Homo sapiens: one gene and its partner. The protein of the gene in region 1 purifies or fractionates together with the protein of each later gene. This does not show direct contact. Each region holds a gene or a part of one and is shown in the gene's direction. Other genes may lie near its edges. The genes, in order: ORC3 and LRWD1.

The links.
Region 2: the proteins of ORC3 (region 1) and LRWD1 purify together in Homo sapiens (affinity purification with mass spectrometry; 4 studies listed by BioGRID and IntAct, with this or other methods). This does not show direct contact.

What each region holds. Positions count from the first base shown.
Region 1 is NC_000006.12:87,606,047-87,616,014, forward strand, and holds part of ORC3 (origin recognition complex subunit 3), read left to right. Parts: intron 1-1,626; coding exon 1,627-1,778; intron 1,779-3,049; coding exon 3,050-3,183; intron 3,184-6,042; coding exon 6,043-6,202; intron 6,203-9,968. UniProt on the Homo sapiens protein: Component of the origin recognition complex (ORC) that binds origins of replication. DNA-binding is ATP-dependent. The specific DNA sequences that define origins of replication have not been identified yet.
Region 2 is NC_000007.14:102,459,032-102,469,026, forward strand, and holds the start of LRWD1 (leucine-rich repeat and WD repeat-containing protein 1), read left to right. Parts: upstream 1-5,952; 5' UTR 5,953-6,049; coding exon 6,050-6,129; exon of another isoform or gene 6,130-6,147; intron 6,148-6,710; exon of another isoform or gene 6,711-6,785; coding exon 6,786-7,020; intron 7,021-7,122; coding exon 7,123-7,239; intron 7,240-8,307; coding exon 8,308-8,448; intron 8,449-8,687; coding exon 8,688-8,792; intron 8,793-9,030; coding exon 9,031-9,156; intron 9,157-9,231; coding exon 9,232-9,346; intron 9,347-9,522; coding exon 9,523-9,623; intron 9,624-9,823; coding exon 9,824-9,995. Other genes in the region: ALKBH4 (alpha-ketoglutarate-dependent dioxygenase alkB homolog 4), read right to left, coding at 573-770, 5,683-5,805. UniProt on the Homo sapiens protein: Required for G1/S transition. Recruits and stabilizes the origin recognition complex (ORC) onto chromatin during G1 to establish pre-replication complex (preRC) and to heterochromatic sites in post-replicated cells.

The sequences.
Region 1 (9,968 bases):
CTTGATGAGATGTTACAGACTTCTTTCATCCTTTTCTCTCTTTTTCAGGCTTTCTTTATCCCTTTTTTTGGTGGAAAGAACACAGTGCTATGTTTTAGGCAGGGTGAGGTTTGGGGGCTCTCAGAGTAATTGTGACTATTACAGAACTCTGCCTTCTTTTGCTGTCTTTGTTCTTGACCCATTTCTGCCCTATCAGCTTAACTGCCGGTAGCAGTCCAGGCATTTTGTGAGATGCATTCTTTAACCCAGTGAAACGTTTAATAAGTAGAAAGACTTAGGACAGAAAGCTGAGAATTGGGGAATGAGGAGCTCTTGTCAGCTCAAAAGAGAGTAGACCACATGGGCTCATGTTTCAGCCATAAATCATCTTATTGTCCCACTTTGAAAAGCCACCATGGTGAAAAATAGTCCACTGACAGAGGTAATCCTGAGCATGTGAACCCATGAAATCATAAAGAGTGTTCACACTAATATATTAAAAAGCTTTTTTTTTTTTTCTTTTGAGACAGGGTCTCACTCTGTTGCCTAGGCTGTACTACAGTAGCATGATCATAGCTCAGTGCAGCTTGAACTCCTGGCCTCAAGCAGTTCTCCCACTTCAGCTTCCCCAGTACCTAGGACTACAGGTGCATGCCATTACGCTCAGCTACATCAGCTACATTGTGGGGTTTTGTTGTTGTTGTTGTTTGTAGAGATTGGGTCTTGCTGTGTTGTCCAGACTGGTCTTGAACTCCTGGGCTCAAACAATCCTCCTGCCTTGGCTTCCCAAAGTGCTGGGATTACATCTTGAGTCACCATGCCTGGCCCTAATGTGGTAAAATTTGTTTGGATTAGATTGATAAAAGAGATTTATGTGCTTATATTGCTTTCATATTCATAAACTGATTGAAATTAAGTAAAAGCCCTTAAAGGCATCTTTAAAAATGGCTATATGAAAGATTTATAATCAGTAAAATAATTCATATGACACTTGATTTTTCTTAGGGAACTTGAAAACTGTTTATTTTCCTATGTAATTTAAATACATATTCCTAAAATTTATAGTTTGCATATCTACACATTTGCTTCTGTGACCTTTTTATTATAGATAATATACATAAATGGCTGGGAGCAGTGTTTGATGCTTGTAATCCCAGCACTTTGGGAGGCTGAGGCAGGCAGATCATGAGGTGAGGAGTTCGAGACCAGCCTGGCCAACATGGCAAAACCCCGTCTCTACTAAAAAATACAAAAATTAGCTGGGTATGGTGGCACGCGCCTGTAATCCCAGCTACTGGGGAGGCTTGAGGCAGGAGAATTGCTTGAACCCGGGAGGCAGAGGTTGTATTGAGCCGAGATCCTGCCACTGTACTCCAGCCTGGGCAACAGAGCGAGACTCCATCTCAAAAAAAAAAAATAAAGATAATATACATAAGCTTTGGTTTAGTCTTAGTCTGAATTAATGAAGGTACTAATGAGCATCAGTAGTTAATATGTTAAATGTTACATTAGCTGTATTGATGGTAAGTATAAAAAAACACATTCTACCAAAAAAAAAAGTAATACACTCAGCAAGAAGTTTCAAGAGCTTTGGTTTTATTTTTAGAAGAGGCAGAGATAAGCTTTCTTACTTTTTATATTCCACAGATATGAAACATTTTTTGCAAAAGTTGATCTCACAGTTGATGGACTGCTGTGTAGATATAAAATCCAAAGAGGAGGAAAGTGTTCACGTCACCCAAAGAAAGACACATTATTCAATGGATTCACTTTCCAGTTGGTATATGACTGTCACACAGGTAGATATAAACTGATGATTTTCTCCCAGGAAATTGACGTATGATTGATGTGGCTTGGAATAATATTAGACAGTACTGTTTTGATCTAACAAGGATATGTTTCTGCAGCACTAGGTGTTAATTTAAAAGTAGGTATTTATTTTTTCTAATGCTACTCGAATTTTAAAATGTTCTTTTATTAGTATGCAGCCTAATTCCAGGTAAGTGCTTAGGTTTTTACAAGGACATATTATTTGTTGGAGAATGTCCTCTAATGACAAAAACAGAGCATCAGGAATTGCTTCTGTTGCATGTTCCATCTCTGTGACAGTAACTATAACTTTAGTATATTATCTCTTATGTTCCTCAATGTTTGCTTTGTCCAATAGAACCATGCTGCTAGTATCCACTGTCAACTTAGTTCAATGAAGAATAATCATGTATTTTCTAAAGTCTAATTTGTTTTATGTTTAGAGTTCTTAGGGAATCAGTGTTCTTTAAGTAAAGTATGTTAGACAAACAGATAAGTAAAAAGAAGTTCCATTCTACCATGACAGTCTGGTGAAAAATAATAACCTAGGTTAACACTAGGTAATTGCGTCATAAAACCATAGTCTTAGGTTATGGTGCTGTGTAGCCAGACAGTATGGGAAAAAAAATACTGTGGTTACATTTTCCAATCAACATTTTTGCTGAAATCATCGTAAGTGAAGTTTCATTTTGCTTTATATAGGGACTAAACTACGTCTAATACTTACCATAATACCTGATTTGCTCCACAATTTTAGACTTTCCAGATAAAATGCTACTTTTGGTTTATGTCAGATATCTTTTTAAAAATTGAGATTGGACCAGATGATACCTAGTATCCATTTCAGGCTTGAAATTTCACAGTGGCAGAGTAGCAAGCACTACTATTCATTATATTTTTTTCATTAAAAATACTAGTTCTCACTATAAAGCAAAGCAGAATATAACTTTCTACCAACAGAAAAATCAATTTTGTAGAAAATTTCCTCTTCCATGTTTTTTTCTGTCATTTCCTTAGCAGAAAATATAAATATTTCATATGAGTTATAGATTTTTACTGAACCTTTTTCTTCTTGGTTATTATTCCCATGTCAGACACAGCAAGATTCTAGTAACCTGAGTTTCTATTTATCGTGTGGTAGAAAAAAAATAAACAGTGTTATTGTGAAATTTAAAGAGAGATATGTCAACATGTGGCATTATAACATTGTTTGAGTGGTAAGGCTTACCTTTAACTCTTTCTTTCTGCAATGGCTTAAAAGAAGACGGACCCAAAAATGCTAAGCAAAAAAAGGACTACTTCTAGCCAATGGCAGTCTCCTCCTGTTGTCGTTATCTTGAAGGATATGGAAAGCTTTGCCACAAAAGTACTACAAGACTTCATAATTATCAGCAGGTAGATGGTGTATTACCTGGCTTTTATGAAAAACTCCCTTTTTAAGAAAATACTACTTTTAACTTGAAAAGTATAATCTTCATTTTAATACCAACTGGATAAAAATCAAAGTATTCAAATTCTTTATAATTGAATATTCAAAGACTTCCTATCAGATTTTCCATTTGCTTTTTGAGCCAAGAATGAGAATCAAAGGCACATTTAGCCAGTTTTAAATTGACATGGTAAGATAGTATTAAATATGGTTTTTCTCACCAAGATTGACTGTCTCTTACTCACCCATTAAATAGATAAACTACTCCAGGTTGAGTTTGTTGTTTTTGTTTTTTTCTTTTTTTTTTTTGAGATGGAGCTTTGTTCTGTTGCCCAGGCTGGAGTGCAGTGGTACGATCTCGGCTCACTGCAGCCTCCGCCTCCTGGGTTCAAGCAATTCTGCCTCAGCCTCCTGAGTAGCTGGGATTACAGGTGCCCACCACCACACCTGGCTAATTTTTGTATTTTTAGTAGAAACAGAGTTTCACCATGTTGGCCAGGCTGTTCTCGAACTCCTGACCTCAGGTGATCTGCCTGCCTCGGCCTCCCAAAGTGCTGGGATTACAGGAGTGAGCCACCATACCTGGCTAAGTTGAGATTTTTATTAGGTCTTATTTTCTGATACCCATCCATCCTTAGATGCTCTGAGTTGCATATAGTTTTACTAAGCAAAAGTGTCTTCTAAATAACATTATTTTGCATTTATATAATACTTCTAGTGAGAAACTATTTTCACGATTGCATTGCGTCTTCAAAGCAATCATGTGAGACTCAGAATTGAAATAATGAACTCTTATTTTAAAATCCAGTGACATGCATTTTCCCTGGTGTATTTTTTAGGATGGAATTTATTTTGGCCTCTTCTATATGTCAACTTGTTTTAATAGTTATAGCTACATTTGCCTAAAGCTATATATTGTGTTAAATAATTTACTAGTATACTTTATTTTTATTTTTATTTTTGGAGACAGAGTCTCGCTCTGTCCCCCAGGCTGGAGTGCAGTGGCGCCTTCTCAACTCCCTGCCACCTCCGCCTCCCGGGTTCAAGCAGTTCTCATGCCTCAGCCTCCCAAGTAGCTGGGATTACAGGTGCCCGCTGCCACGCCTAGCTAATTTTTGTATTTTTAGTAGAGACAGGGTTTCACCATATTAGCCAGGCTGGTCTCAAACTCCTGACCTCAGGTGATCTGCCTTCCTTAGTGCTCTTTGGGGCCTCCCAAAGTGCTAGGATTACAGACATGAGCCACCACACCCAGCTAATTTACTAATATACTTTATTTTTTTTTATTTTTTATTTTTTTTGAGACGGAGTCTCGCTCTGTCGCCCAGGTCGGACTGCGGACTGCAGTGGCGCAATCTCGGCTCACTGCAAGCTCCGCTTCCCGGGTTCACGCCATTCTCCTGCCTCAGCCTCCCGAGTAGCTGGGACTACAGGCGCCCGCCACCGCGCCTGGCTAATTTTTTGTATTTTTAGTAGAGACGGGGTTTCACCTTGTTAGCCAGGATGGTCTCGATCTCCTGACCTCATGATCCACCCGCCTCGGCCTCCCAAAGTGCTGGGATTACAGGCGTGAGCCACCGCGCCCGGCCTACTAATATACTTTAAATTTCTACTTTGATAGGATCTTTTTTCCTTCATTGATTCTAAGAGTTCTATATATTAGGACTTTTCTTTTTTTTTTTTTTTTTTTTGAGACAGGGTCTGGCTCTGTCACCCAGGCTAGAGCGCAGTGACATGATCTTGGCTCACTGCACCCTCCACCTCCTGGGCTTAAGCAGTCCTCCCTTCTCAGGTCCCCAAGTAGCTAGGACTATAGGCACACACCACCATGCCCGGCTAATTTTTGTATTTTTTGTAGAGATGGGGTTTTGCCGTGTTGCCCAGGCTGGTCTCAAACTCTTGGCCTCAAGAGATCTGCCCTCCTCAGTCTCCCAACGTGCTGGGATTACAGACATGAACCATCGCACCCAGCCCAGATCCTAGGACTTGCATGAACCATTGCACCCAGCCCAGATCCTAGGACTTTTCTTAATGCTGACACTGAACTGCTTAGCATGCTTGGAAAGTACATAGTACAAAATAGTGACAGAAAAGCTGTACTTTTTTTTGGAGCTTAGACTTAATGACTACCTTAGCCATCAAAAGTGAGGAAGACTATAGAAAGGGCTCAAACTTTGAATGAGATATTAAATGGAATGGTATCTAACATCTCTTCTAACACTTAAGATTGTATAATCTTCGGCCCGGGCATGGTGGCTCACGCCTGTAATCCCAGCACTTTGGGAGGCCGAAGTGGGTGGATCACATGAAGTCAGGAGTTTGAGACCAGCCTGACCAATATGGTGAAACCCCATCTCCACTAAAATTAAAAAATTAGGCATGGTGGCACGCACATGTAGTCCCAGCTACTCGGGAGGCTGAGGCAGGAGAATCGCTTGAACCCAGGAGGTGGAGGTTGCAGTGAGCCGAGATTGCACCACTGCACTCCAGTCTGGGTGACAGAGCAGGACTCCATCTGAAAAAAAAAAAAGAAAAAAGATGGTATAATCTTCAGGAAAACTTTCTGGACCTCTCTGTTCTTATTTATAAAATGAGAGGATTTATTAAGAGATTGATTTCAAAGCTAGACTGTCTGGAAAGTAATTATTTCTCTGTTTAATAGAAGAAAGTGAAAGACTTAGAAAATTTTAGTGTTTGCAATGATAATCCTTAACAGTGTCTTATAAAGTAAGCATTAAAATAAAGTTTGTCTTATGTTGAAATATGATGTATTGAAATATATTTGCTAAATAAATTTCACTTTTGTGTCTGTCTTTCAAAACTAGTCAACATCTCCATGAATTTCCACTAATACTCATTTTTGGAATAGCCACATCTCCTATTATCATCCACCGATTGCTTCCTCATGCAGTATCATCTCTATTGTGCATAGAACTGTTCCAATCTTTGTCTTGTAAGGAGCACCTGACTACGGTACTCGATAAGGTAAAAAGAATAAGTTTTACCAGTGAAATAGGATGAAAAGAAAACTGCCAATAATAGATTGTTAAGATAACTGTTAACAATAAGCCTCTACAACTCTCTGAGTACTATATTGAACATATTCCTTCACATACTTTAATATTTTTACTTAATAATTTTTGTAGTGTTTTATAGTTTTACAGTGATTTTGTATATTACCTCTTCAGGTAAAATATAAGCTTTATGAAAAGAGTGATCATATCTCTCTATGTACTTAATCTCTTTATATCTTTACTCAATAGAAAATTATAGGTTTATAATGTAAATTTTTACAGAATTTGTAGACTTTGTAGTAACAATGTATTTTGACTCTTACATTTTGATTTTTCTAATTTTTATTTTTTTGAGAAGGAGTCTAGCTCTGTCATCCAGGCTGGAGTGCAGTGACGAAATCTTGGCTCACTGCAACCTCTGCCTCCCAGGTTCAAGTGATTCTCCTGCCGCAGCATCTCAAGTAGCTGGGACTTCATGAGGTGTGCCGCCACGCCTGGCTAATTTGTATTTTTAGTAGACACAGGGTACCATATTGGCCAGGCTGGTCTGGAACTCCTGACCTCAAGTGATCTACCTGCCTTGGCCTCCCAAAGTGCTGGGATTACAGGCATGAGCCGCCACACCCAGCCTGACTCCTTACATTTTGTATAAAATGATTTGAAGTTTTTAGTGGACTGTTTCCTAACTGATTTGTCATGCTGCTCTTGACAACAAATACTAACATTTTCCTAGACCTTAGCAACTAAAGTTAATTAACTATGTTTCTACATAAATGCAAGTATGATTCTTTAATATTGACTGTATTAGTCTGTTCTCACGCTGCTGATAAAGACACACCTGAGACTGGGCAATTTACAAAAGAAAGAGGTTTAATGGACTCATAGTTCCACTTGGCTGGGGAGGCCTCACAATCATGGTGGAAGGCAAGGAGGAGCAAGTCACATCTTACATAGATGGCAGCAGGCAAAGTGAGAGAGCTTGTACAGGGGAACTCCTCTTTATAAAACCATCAGATCTCATGAGACTTATTCACTATCATGAGAACAGCACAGGAAAGACTTGCTCCCATGATTCAATTACCGCCCACCAGGTCCCTCCCATAGCACTTGGGAATTCAAGATGAGATTTGGGTGGGGACACAACCAAACCATATCATTCTGCCCCTGGCCCCTCCCAAATCACATGTCCTCACATTTCAAAACCAATCATGCCTTCCCAACAGTCCCCCAAAGTCCTAACTCATTTCAGCATTAACTCAATAGTCCACAGTCCAAAGTCTCATCCGAGACAAGGCAAGTCCCTTCTGCCTATGAGCCTGTAGAATCAAAAGCAAGTTAGTTACTTCCTAGATACAATGGGGGTACAGGCATTGGGTAAATACAGCCATTCCAAATGGGAGAAATTGGCCAAAACAAAGGAGTTACAGGCCCCATGCAAATCTGAAATCCAGCGAGGTAGTCAAGTCTTACAGCTCCAGATGATCTCCTTTGACTCCATTTCTCACATCCAGGTCATGCTGATGCAAGAGGTGGGTTCCCATGGTCTTTGGCAGCTTCACCCCTGTTGCTTTGCAGGTTACAGCCTCCCTCCTGGCTGCCTTCATGGGCTGGTGTTAAGTGTCTGCAGCTTTTCCAGGCACACGGTGCAAGCTGTTGGTGGATCTACCATTCTGGGGTGTAGAGGATGGTAGCCCTTTTCTCACAGCTCCACTAGGCAGTGCCCCAGTAAGGACTCTGTGTGGGGACTCCAACCCCACATTTCCCTTTCACACTGCCCTAGCAGAGGTTCTCCATGAGGACCCTGCCCCTACAGCAAACTTCTGCCTGGACACCCAGGCTTTTCCATACATCTTCTGAAATCTAGACGGAGGTTCCCACACCCCAGTTCTGTGCACTCACAGGCTCAACACGATGTGGAAGCTGCCAGGGCTTGGGGCTTGCACTCTCTGAAGCCGTGGCCCGAACTTTGTGTTGGCCCTTTTCAGCCACAGCTGGAGTGGCTAGGACACAGCACCAATTTCCTAAGCTGCACACAGCACGGGGACTCTGGGCCCAGCCCGTGAAATCGCTTTTGCCTCCTAGGTCTCCAGGCTTGTGATGGGAGGGGCTGCCATGAAGACCTCTGACATGCCCTGGAGATATTTTCTCCATTGTTTTGGGGATTAACGTTTGGCTCTTTGTTACTTACGGAAATTTCTGCAGCTGACTTGAATTTCTCCTCAGAAATGGGATTTTCTTTTCTATCTCATTGTCAGGCTGCAAATTTTCCAAACTTTTATGCCCTGCTTCCCTCATAAAATGGAATGCCTTTAACAGAACTCAAGTCACCTCTTGAATGCTTTGCTGCTTAGAAATTTGTTCCTCAGGATACCCAAAATCATCTCCCTCAAGTTCAAAGTTCCACAAATCTCTGGGGCAGGGGCAAAATGCCGCCAGTCTCTTTGCTAAAACATAACAAGAGTCACCTTTGCTCCAGTTTCCAACAAGTTTGTCATCTCCATCTGAGACCCCCTCAGCCTGTTTCATTGTCCATATCATTATCAGCATTTTGGTCAAAGACATTCAATAAGTCTCTAGGTAGTTACAAACTTTCCCACATTTTCCTGTCTTCTGAGCCCTCCAAACTGTTCCAACCTCTGCCTGTCATCCAGTTCCAAAGTCACTTCCACATTTTTGGGTATCTTTTCAGCAGTGCCCCACTCTACTGGTACCAATTTACTGTATTAGTCTGTTCTCACACCGCTGATAAAGACATAGGCGAGACTGGGCAATTTACAAAAGAAAGAGGTTTAATGGACTCAGTTCCACATGGCTGGGGAGGCCTCAATCATGGTGGAAGGCAAGGAGGAACAAATCACATCTTACATGGCTGGTAGCAGGCAAAGAGAGAGAGCTTGTGCAGGGGAACTCCTCTTTATAAAACCATCAGGTTTCATAAGACTTATTCACTGTCATGAGAACAGCATGGGAAAGACTTTTCCCCATGATTCAGTTACCTCCCACCAGGTCCCTCCCACAGCACTTGGGAATTCAAGATGGGATTTGGGTGGGGACACAGCCAAACCATATCATTGACCTTCCCCAAATTGCTTCTGGACTCACCTCCTTTAAGATGTGCTTTATGCTGCTTATTTAAGGTAAACTAAAAACAACCTGCCCACTAGCCACTTACACATGGGTTTTAGTGTTTTTCTTTTTTTCCATAAAGGTGATTTATAGACACTTTAAGGAAAATGTTTTCAAGCTGCTATTTTTAAATTTGCTTGGCTAGGCCGGAAAGGGTGGCAAGCACCTATAATCCCTTTTACTTGGTAGGCTGAGGTGGGAGAATCACTTGAGCCCAGAAGTTCAAGGCTACAGTGAGCTATGATGCCACCACTGCACTCCAGCCTGGGCAAAAGAGCAAGAACTTTCCTCTACAAAAAGAAAACAAAAAACTTGGTTATAGCCAAGTTCAATTGGCCTTTTACAACTATGCTTCTGTTTAAGAAGCCTTGTGTGACTTTTCATTTCCAGATGTAAAACATCACTATAGACAATTGAAAATTAGCCAAATAATACAAATTCAGCTATTCTATACTTTTGAAATAGACATCTGTGAAATAGACATTTGTGTTTCTCATTCAACAATACATAATATATTACTCTTCATTAATTTGAATCAGTAGTAATGAAAAAAATCTCATCTGGTAATAAGAATTGCCAAAGCCTGCAGCTTCTTCAGTGGTTTCTGGTGA
Region 2 (9,995 bases), on another chromosome or scaffold:
GCTACTTGGGAGGCTGAGCCAGAAGAATGGCTTGAACCCGGGAAGCAGAGGTTGCAGTGAGTTCAGGTCATGCCACTGTACTCCAGCCTGGGTGGCAGAGCGAGACTCTGTCTCAAAAAAAAAAAAAAAAAAAACCTACAATGAAGGGAGAGGGGGCACCCGGGGATGTTTGGACACAGGTGGGGAAGGAGTTGGAGGGAGCGGCGGGCCCGGGGAGGGGGAAGGTGGGAATGCGTGTGAGGAGACAGGACACGGATGGTGACAATGGGAGGTGGGGGCGCCTGCAGCTTGGGAGAATGGGGTGCCTTCACCACCACCAAGCCAGCTACAGAGGGGCAGAGAGCCCAGGAGCGCATATCACAGGGAGATGGGGTGCCCAGGTGCACCTCTGCCCATCGGACACACGTCCTGCAGCGAGTCTGGCTGCCCACAGCCCCAAGGTCTGGGGAACTCGCCCACTACCAACCCTGGAGGTTTGAGGGGTGTGGCTGCAAGGAGGGGGATGGCCCCCAGCAGTAGGGCTGTCTCCTCAGCGCAGCCCAGCAACCCCCATGAGCTCAGGGCCGGTCTACCTGCTTCCTCCGTCCAGACTGGGAGAGCTTCCAGGGGTCACGGTCCATGAGCCGCACCAACTCGGCTTCTTCCTCCCGGGTCACAAAGTCCTCGATCAGCATCACTCCTGGGAAGGGGAAGGCCCAGCCCTCAAAGTCAGACTCCTCTGTGCCCACGGCCCAGCCGGTGTCGGAGCAGTAAATGAAACGGTATGTTTTCTGCAAAAGAAACACAAGTCCACAGGCTGGGCAACACAGCGAGACCCGGTCCCTACGAAAAGTTAAAACAGGCCAGGTGCGGTGGCTCACGCCTGTAATTCCAGCACTTTGGGAGGCCGAGGTGGGTGGATCACCTGAGGTCAGGAGTTCAAGACCAGCCTGGCCAACATGGTGAAACCCCATCTCTACTAAAAATACAAAAATTAGCCAGGCATGGTGGCAGGTGCCTGTAATCCCAGCTACTCAGGAGGCTGAAGCTGGAGAATTGCTTAAACCCAGAAGGCAGAGGTTGCAGTGAGCCAAGATGGCACCACTGCACTCCAGCCTGGGCGACAGAGTGAGACTCAAAAAAAAAAAAAAAGTTTAAATAAAAATTAGCCGGGTGTGGCAGAGCGCACTTGTCATTTCAGCTACTCAGGAGGCTGAGGCGGGAGGATCATTTGAGCCCAGGAGGTTGAGGCTACAGTGAGCCATGGTCGCGCTACTGCACTCCAGCCTGGACAACAAAGCAAGACCCTGTCTCAAAAAAAAAAAAAGAAAAAAAAAAAAGGAAAGACACATCCTGGAGCCATGGCAGCCCCTGGCACTTGTGTGCCCTCAGGAGACCCTCTGATGGCTCATTCCTCCCCTCAGGACACTGTGGAAGGCAGCTGGAGTCTAGGGGGAGGTGCAGGCAGAGCCTCTGCCCCAGGCTGACCGGGGAAGGCCCGCAGCCCTCTTGAGCTAACACGAATTTGATTGGTTTCCTTTCTCACTTTCCTCCCCTGTAAAAGAGAAGGGTTTGTACAACATGTTTTTCCTTCTCCATTTTACAAAGGAGGCTCAGCAAAGTTAAGGAACCAGCCCGAGGCTGGACAGCACCTCCTGCACTCCCATCTCCTCAGCTGCTTCCAGGAGGCCCCAAACTGCCTGACTACCTTGAATCTGTGCACCCTAATCTCTTTAGGTCTTTGCTGATGCCACCCCGGTGTCCCAGGGGTTGGCCCGTGCCTATCACCAGCGTGAGGGTCACCTAGGAGGGCAGCCAACTTCCCTACAGAGCTGAGCGTTCAGTTGAGCTCCTCAGTGTCCCAACCTCCCTTCTCCTCACTCTTGTCCTCAGGGCACCTTTCCAGACCCAGCATCACCCCTCAATCCTCATACCCTGGGCTGTCACTCAACTCCCACCCCATGTCCCTCTCTGCTCTGCCACCAACCCCGAGGCCTGGCGGTACTCTAAGGGTTCCCCCATGCTAAAGAAAGTCTAGAAACCAGGCCAGGCACGGTGGCTCACACCTGTAATCCCAACACTTTGGGAGGCCAAGGTGGACTGATCACCTGGGGTCAGGAGTTCAAGACCAGCCTGGCCAACATGGCAAAACCCCGTCTCTATTAAAAATACAAAAACTAGCCGGGCGTCGTGGTGCATGCCTGTAATCCCAGCTACTCAGGTGGCTGAGGCAGGAGAATCCCTTGAACCCGGGAGGTGGAGATTGCAGTGAGCCAAGATCGTGCTAGTGGACACCAGCCTGGGTGACACAGTGAGACCCCATCTTGAAAATAATAATAATACTTTTTGTTTGTTTGTTTGTTTGTTTGAGATGGAGTCTCGCTCTGTCACCAGAACTGGAGTGCAGTGGCACGATCTCGGCTCACTGCAACCTCTACCTCCTGGGTTCAAGCGATTCTCCTGCCTCAACCTCCCGAGTAGCTGGGACTACAGGTGCGCGCCACCATGCCCAGCTAATTTTTTTCTTGTATTTTAGTAGAGACGAGGTTTCACCATGTTGACCAGGATGGTCTTGAACTCCTGACCTTGTGATCCTCCCGCCTTGGCCTCCCAAAGTGCTGGGATTACAGGCGTGAACCACCATGCCCAGCCAATAGTAAATTTTTAAAAAAGAGTTTCGCCAATGAAATAGCCAGTATTTGCATCTGTGGCACTGAACATTTTACATGGATTATCTAGTTTCATCCCCAGGACAGCCCCAAGAGGAAGGTACCATAACTATCATGGGCAGGAGGTGTGGAGGTTCTGGCCGGAGTCACCCAGTGAGGACTTCGGAGGCCACCAGAACTCAGCCCTGGGCTCTGTGGCCTGTCTCCTCTTCCTCTTCCATCTCCAGGCTCCTCACACCCTGGGCTGCCACTCACTGTGGGCCGCTGTCTTTCTCTGTTCTTCCCTCCAGGGACCTCAGCCCCTTCCAATGCTTTACTTCCAGCCACCGACTCCAGCTCAGACCCCTCCTGAGATTGGCACTATCTCCTCCTGCTCCTGGGGCCCTCCCACGGGAAACATTAAAACTGGGAGTCCCCCGTGTGTCGGCTGAGCAGGCTGGACTTGTCCGAAAGGCCATGGAGCGCTCTTGAAGGGTTTTAAAGGAGTGACGAGGTCAAATGTGAATTTTAGAAAGATCTGGAGGGGGGAGGGGCAGATATGAAGGGTGGAGGCTGGAAAGCCAGTGAGGAACTGCCCCAGTGCCCTGAGATCCTGGATACCTCACTCTCCTTGTTCCATAGCCATCGGGTTGGGAAGATGTCACCTCCACATGGCCACTGGAACGGGTCAGACTTTCCGCAATTTTTTTCTTTTCTTTTTTTTTGTTTGAGGCAGGGTCTCGCTCTGTCACTCAGGCTGGAGTGTAGTGGCGCTCACAGCTCACTGCAGCCTTGACCTCCTGGGCTCAGGCAATCCTCCCACCTCAGCCTCCCAAGTAACTGGGACTACAAGCACACACCACCACACCTAGCTAATTTTTAAATTTTTTGTAGAGACAGGGTCTTGCTATGTTGTCCAAGCTGGTCTCAAACTCCTAGACTCAGGCGAGCCTCCTGCCTCAGCCTCCCAAAGGGCTGGGATTATAGGCATGAGCCACCGCACCTGGCCCCTTCCACAAATTAAAACTCTTAAGTTCATTCATATTGTTGTACAGCCGTCACCACCATTCAGAACTTTTTCATCTTGCAAAACTGAAACTCTTTCCCTATTAAACAACAGGTCCCCATCTCCCCTTCCTGAGCCCTTGGCAACAACCCTTCTACTTTCTGTCCCTGTGACTACCCTACGTAGCTCACACAACAGGAATCATGCAGTATTTGTCTTCTGTGACTGCTTCCTTAACTTAGCATCGTGTCCCCAAGGTTCGTCCATGCTGTAACATATGTCAAAATGTCCTTTTTTTTTTTTTTTTTTTTGAGACAGGGTCTCACTATGTTGCCCAAGCTGGAGTGCAGTGGCGTGATCACAGCTCACTGCAGCCTTGACCTCCCAGGCTCAAGCAACCCTCCCACCTCAGCCTCCTGGGTAGCTGGGACTACAGGTACGTGTCACCATGTATGGTTAATTTTTTTGTAGAGGTGGGATTTCACCATGTTGCCCATGCTGGTCTCAAACTCCTGGGCTCTGGCAATCTGCCTGCCTCGGTCTCCCAAAGTGCTGGAATTACAGGTGTGAGCCACTGTGCCCGGCCTGTCCTTCCTTTTTAAGGCTGAATAGTATTCTACTATGTGTATGCACCACATTTTGTGGATCAAGTCATCTCTTTTTTTTTTTTTTTTTTTTTTTTTGAGAAGGAGTCTTGCTCTGTCACCTGAGCTGGAGTGCAGTGGTGCGATCTTGGCTCACTGCAACCTCTGCCTCCTGGGTTCAAGCGATTCTCCTGCCTCAGCCTCCCGAGTAGCTGGGATTACAGATGTGCCTCACCAAGCCCGGCAAGTTTTTGTAATTTTAGTAGAGGCAGGGTTTCGCCATGTTAGCCAGGCAGGTCTCAAACTCCTGACCTCAGGTGATCTGCCCACCTCAGCCTCCCAAAGTGCTGGGATTACAGGCGTGAGCCACTGAACCCGGCCCAGGTATCTTGATAGATGCTTGGTTTGCTTCCATCTTTGGGCTGTCATGAATAATGTCGTGAATATGAACATGGGTGTGCAAATATCTCTTCCAGACCCTGCTTTTAGTTCCTTTGGATATATACCCAGAAGCAGGATTGCGGATCATGGGTAATTCTATGTTTAATTCATGAGGCATGCCATGCTGTTTCCATAGGACCTTGGGCACTTTTACCATGGACGTTGGGGCAGTCTTCACTGGCTTACCAGCCTCCACACCTTCATATCTGCCCGTTCCCTTCCCAGGATCTTTCTAAAATTCACATTTGACTTCATCACTCCTTTAAAACCCTTCAAGAGCTCTCCAGGGCCTTTGGGACAAGTCCAGCCTGCTCAGCTGATGCACCGGGGAGCATCTGTGATCAGACCTCCCCCCCCCCACAACCTCTCCAGCCTCATCTCTCTCACCTGAGGCATCACCAATCCACCTTCCTACCCCACGCAGTTTTCTGGGTTGGAATGCCCTTGCAACCAACCACAGTCCTTCCATGCCAGCCCAAAGGCGCTGAGTTCTTTTTCTTTTTTTATTTATTTTCTTTTTGTGAGACAGAGTCTCGCTCTGTCGCCCAGGCTGAAGTGAGGTGGCTCGATCATAGCTCACTGCAGCCTCCAGCTCCTGGGTTGCAGCGATCCTTGAGTTCCTTTTCGTTAGTTAACTGGAATTCACTGTCTCCTTGCCCATTGCAGTCCACGGCCTTCAGGCACCGTTGGACTGGTATTCAGCACCCTCGATCGACCCTTTCCGTGTCATCTCCCTGCAGGCCCGTGAAGCTCCCAGCGCCAGACCCGAGAGGCTACGTCGAGGTTTACAGGCAGATCCCCCCAGAGTCCCCGAGGTGACCTGTAATCGAACCCACCCACGTTCCAGCTCCTTCCCCACTCCCAAGCCCGCTCCTTAAAGCCCTCATCTCCTCACCCTGCATCACCCCTACCGTAAGGGTCCCTCACAGGCTTCGATCCCGGCCCCTATCATGGCCAAGCTGGACCTCAGTTTCCCCAGATGCAGAGCGACGTTTGTGGGCGCGGCCCCTCTCCCACCCCTTACCGCTGGGGGCAGCTCCCAGGGCGGGTCACTGCCGCGCTGCCGCTCGCAGATCAGACAGGTCCGGATGCCCTTGCAACCGCATTCCCGAAGGACTTCGGGGGTCTCGGCGGCAGCCGCCGCCATCGCGCCGTCCGCGTGGCCAGTGCGCAGGCGCGGCCGTGGGGGCCGCTGGGAGTTGTAGTCCGCGCCGGGCGGGGGCACGAGGCCTGGGTTCCGCTTCCTTCCGGTCGTTAACGCCCACGGGCTCGCGCGGCGCCGCCTCCTGGGCTCAGTTACCGCGGACGCCAGTGCCGGGCTCCAGGAGACGCAGGGCGACGCCACACGCCGGGGTGGCCGACTGGGTCAGCGCGGGCTGCGCCTCCTCGCCATGGGCCCCCTCTCGGCGCGGCTGCTAATGCAGCGCGGGCGCCCCAAGAGCGACCGGCTGGGGAAGATCCGGAGTCTGGAGTAAGAGCCGGGCAGCGGGTGAGGCTGTGTCCTCGGGGCCGGGCGGTCGGGGAGAAGAGCGGGGACCCTCCCCAACGGCCCGCTTGTCCCCGTTATCGCCCTCTGGGTTCGGCAGAGTGGTCCAAATGTCTTCTTGTTGGGAGATCGTGGCCCCACCCGCTCGCCGGGAGCCCCGAGGGGCCTCATCCCCTGAAGGGAGCCCGGACAGTTAGGGGCACAGCCTGCCGCTATCGTTAGAGGGCCTGGGAAGCACAGACGAGCCCCCGAAGGATCAGGAAGAGCATCCTAGAGGGGGCTAGGATGCCCCCGAGTCCTAAAGTAGTTGCAGCTTTTTTTTTTTTTTTTTTTTTTTTTTTTTTTTTTTTGTTAAGTGGTGTGGAGTCGGGAGTAGTGGCGCGCGCTTCTAGTCCCAGCTACTCGAGAGGCTGAGGCGGGAGGATCCCTCAGCCCAGGAGTTGGAGGCAGCTGTGAGCTATGATCGCGCCTAGGCGACTGAGTGACACCCCGTCTCTAAAAATAAAGTAACGGGGGGATGGGCGGGGCGGCTACACTTGTACGAGAAATGTCAGGTGAAAAAGCCTTCTGAGGTACCCGGGGCAGATTGGTGTAGGGTGCAAAGCCTGCCCGCCCCCTAAGCCTTCTGCCCCCAACTCCAGCCTGTCAGGATTGGAGCTGCTTTCCGAGCACCTGGACCCCAAACTCCTGTGCCGCCTGACGCAGCTGCAGGAGCTTGACCTGTCTAACAACCACCTGGAGACGCTGCCGGACAACCTGGGCCTGTCCCACCTGCGTGTCCTCCGCTGCGCCAACAACCAGCTGGGGGATGTTACTGCCTTGTGCCAGTTCCCCAAGCTCGAGGAACTCAGCCTGGAGGGCAACCCCTTCCTGACGGTAAGTGGGAGCCTCCCACCAGCTTCATACCTGGGGCCAGGACTCTGTTGGGCTCAGGCTCAGCATCTCCTGAGCCACTGCTCTTCACCCTCTCTTCCCCAGGTCAATGACAACCTGAAAGTCTCCTTTCTCCTGCCCACGCTCCGTAAGGTCAATGGCAAGGATGCGTCCTCAACTTACTCTCAGGTGGAGAACCTGAATCGGGAGCTGACCAGCAGGGTAAGGGGATGAGAGGATTATTGTGTGCTTAGGAGCTGTGGGGGCATTGGGAGAATGATAGAATTGGACATCAGGAGGATGTTGAGGAGGGTGACTGATAGAGGCTCTTTGCCCCAACAGCCCCTAGCCTGATGTGCTACTTTATTTATTTATTTATTTTTTGAGATGGAGTCTCACTCCGTCGCCCAGGCTGGAGTGCAGTGATGCGATCTTGGCTCATTGCAACCTCTGCCTCCCAGGTTCAAGTGATTTTCCTGCCTCAGCCTCCCGAGTAACTAGGATTACAAGCACCTGCCACCATGCCCAGCTAATTTTTTTTGTATTTTTAGTAGAGACAGGGTTTCACCATGTTGGCCAGGCTGGCCTCAAACTCCTGGCCTTAGGTGATCTGCCCGCCTTGGCCTCCCAAAGTGTCGGGATTACAGGTATGAGTCACCACACCCGGCCTGACTCTTCTAAGTAGCTTTTTCTGGGGTGTTTCTTTTTTACCTTTTTTTTTTTTTTTTTTTTTTTTTTTTTTTTTTTTTAGAGACAGGGTCTCGCTCTGCTGCCCATGTTGAAGTGCAGTGGTGTGATCGTATCTCACTGCAGCCTCCAACTCCTGGGCTCAAGCGATCTTCCCGCCTTAGCCTTCTGAATAGCTGGGGCTTTAGGCGCATGCCACCACGTCTGGATCATTTTAAAATTTTTTGTAGAGATGGGATCTTGCTCTGTTCCCCAGGCTCCAACTCCTGGCCTCAAGCGATGCTTCTTCCTCAGCCTCCCAGTGGCTGGGACTATAGGCACCTGGGTTGTTGCTGGTGTGTGTGTGTGTGTGTGTGTGTGTAGGCACCTGGGTTGTTGCTGGGGTGTGTGTGTGTGTGTGTGTAGGCACCTGGGTTGTTGCTGGGGTGTGTGTGGGGTGTGTGTGTGTGTGTGTGTGTGTGTGTGTGTGTGTGTGTGTGTTTTATGAGGCTGTGATTCCAGGAGGCTTCCAGCAGGTGGCGGGATTGAGATTCCCTGAGATGGAGGGCTGGGTCCGGAGGAGCTGGGGTGGGCCGGGCCTGGATCTGGTCCCTCTTGCACCAGGTCACAGCTCACTGGGAGAAGTTCATGGCCACACTGGGTCCTGAAGAGGAGGCTGAGAAGGCCCAGGCGGACTTTGTGAAGTCGGCTGTCAGGGATGTCCGCTACGGGCCCGAGTCCCTCAGCGAGTTCACCCAGTGGCGGGTATGTCCCTGTCCCAATGTGCAGGGAGTCACTGGCTCTCGTATCTCTAGCTGCCTGGAGGTCCCTGGCCATGAAGGGCTGAGGGGCTGTGGGAGTGGGGTGAGTCAGGGTGGGCAGCCCTGTTGGCTGGAGAGGCCCTTCCCCAACTCTGGAAGCATAAGCTCCCCCTGACTATGCATCGGCAGGGCTGGGGGCACCTGGGACTCTGCCCAGCTTCCTGATGGCCTGGCCCCACCCAGGTGCGGATGATCTCTGAGGAGCTGGTGGCCGCCAGTAGGACCCAGGTGCAAAAGGCTAACAGCCCAGAGAAGCCCCCAGAAGCTGGAGCTGCCCACAAGCCCAGGGTGAGTGCAGCTCCCAGGGCTCTGAGGCCAGCCCAGTCCCTCCTCCCTGGAGAAGCTTCAGGAGACCAAGGCGTCCTGGGCATGTGCCCAGGAAGCACCCCAGGTCCTGGCTCACTCCCTAGGTGACCCCGGGCCAGCCTGGGCCTCCTGCATCCGCAGTGAGGTGGGGTCCAGCCTGTGATGGGGAGGAAGGAAGCCCCAGGCAGACAGGCCCATGGTCACAAGGCCCCCTCCACAGGCCAGACTGGCGGCCTTGAAACGGCCAGACGACGTCCCACTCAGCCTCTCTCCCAGCAAGCGGGCGTGTGCCTCCCCGTCGGCCCAGGTGGAGGGCAGCCCTGTGGCAGGCTCCGATGGCAGCCAGGTGAGCTGAGGTGGCAAGGAGCAGGTGGCAGATGAGTCGGGGCTGGGCAGCTGTGACCCTTCTCTCCCCCCACAGCCTGCTGTGAAGCTGGAGCCCCTGCACTTCCTGCAGTGCCACAGCAAGAACAACAGCCCCCAGGACCTCGAGACCCAGCTGTGGGCCTGTGCCTTCGAGCCGGCCTGGGAGGAGGGTACATGGTGGCGGGCAGGCGGGGCAAGGGCCGCTGGAAATAGGGCCGCCTGGATGGGTGGGGGATCAGGAGACAGAGCTTAAAAGGCGCCATCAAGGCTGGGAGGAGGAGGCTGCAGGGAGGACCTAGATGGGAAATGTCTCTGCTCATCCGACCTCTCAAAACCGGGCACTCAGGGGCCACATCCCAGACCGTGGCCACGTGCGGCGGGGAGGCTGTGTGCGTAATTGATTGCCAGACGGGCATCGTGCTCCACAAGTACAAGGCACCCGGCGAGGTGAGTGCAAGGCCCTGTCCCTGCTGGGCAAGGGTGCCCGACTGACTCCTGAACAGCAGCATGGGGATGGATGCAGGCTCGGCCCCCTGCCCCATGGCCTTTTTCTTTCATGCTGGGGCTCCCTCCCCCAGGCCCGGGCTACCCGCGTGTTCACACCAATAGCTCTGCCCCAGTGACTGTTTACTCTAACCCCCGCCCAGGAGTTCTTTTCTGTGGCCTGGACCGCTCTGATGGTGGTCACACAGGCTGGCCACAAGAAGCGCTGGAGTGTGCTGGCGGCTGCAGGCCTACGGGGCCTGGTCCGGCTGCTGCACGTGCGTGCCGGCTTCTGCTGCGGGGTCATCCGAGCCCACAAGAAGGCCATCGCCACCC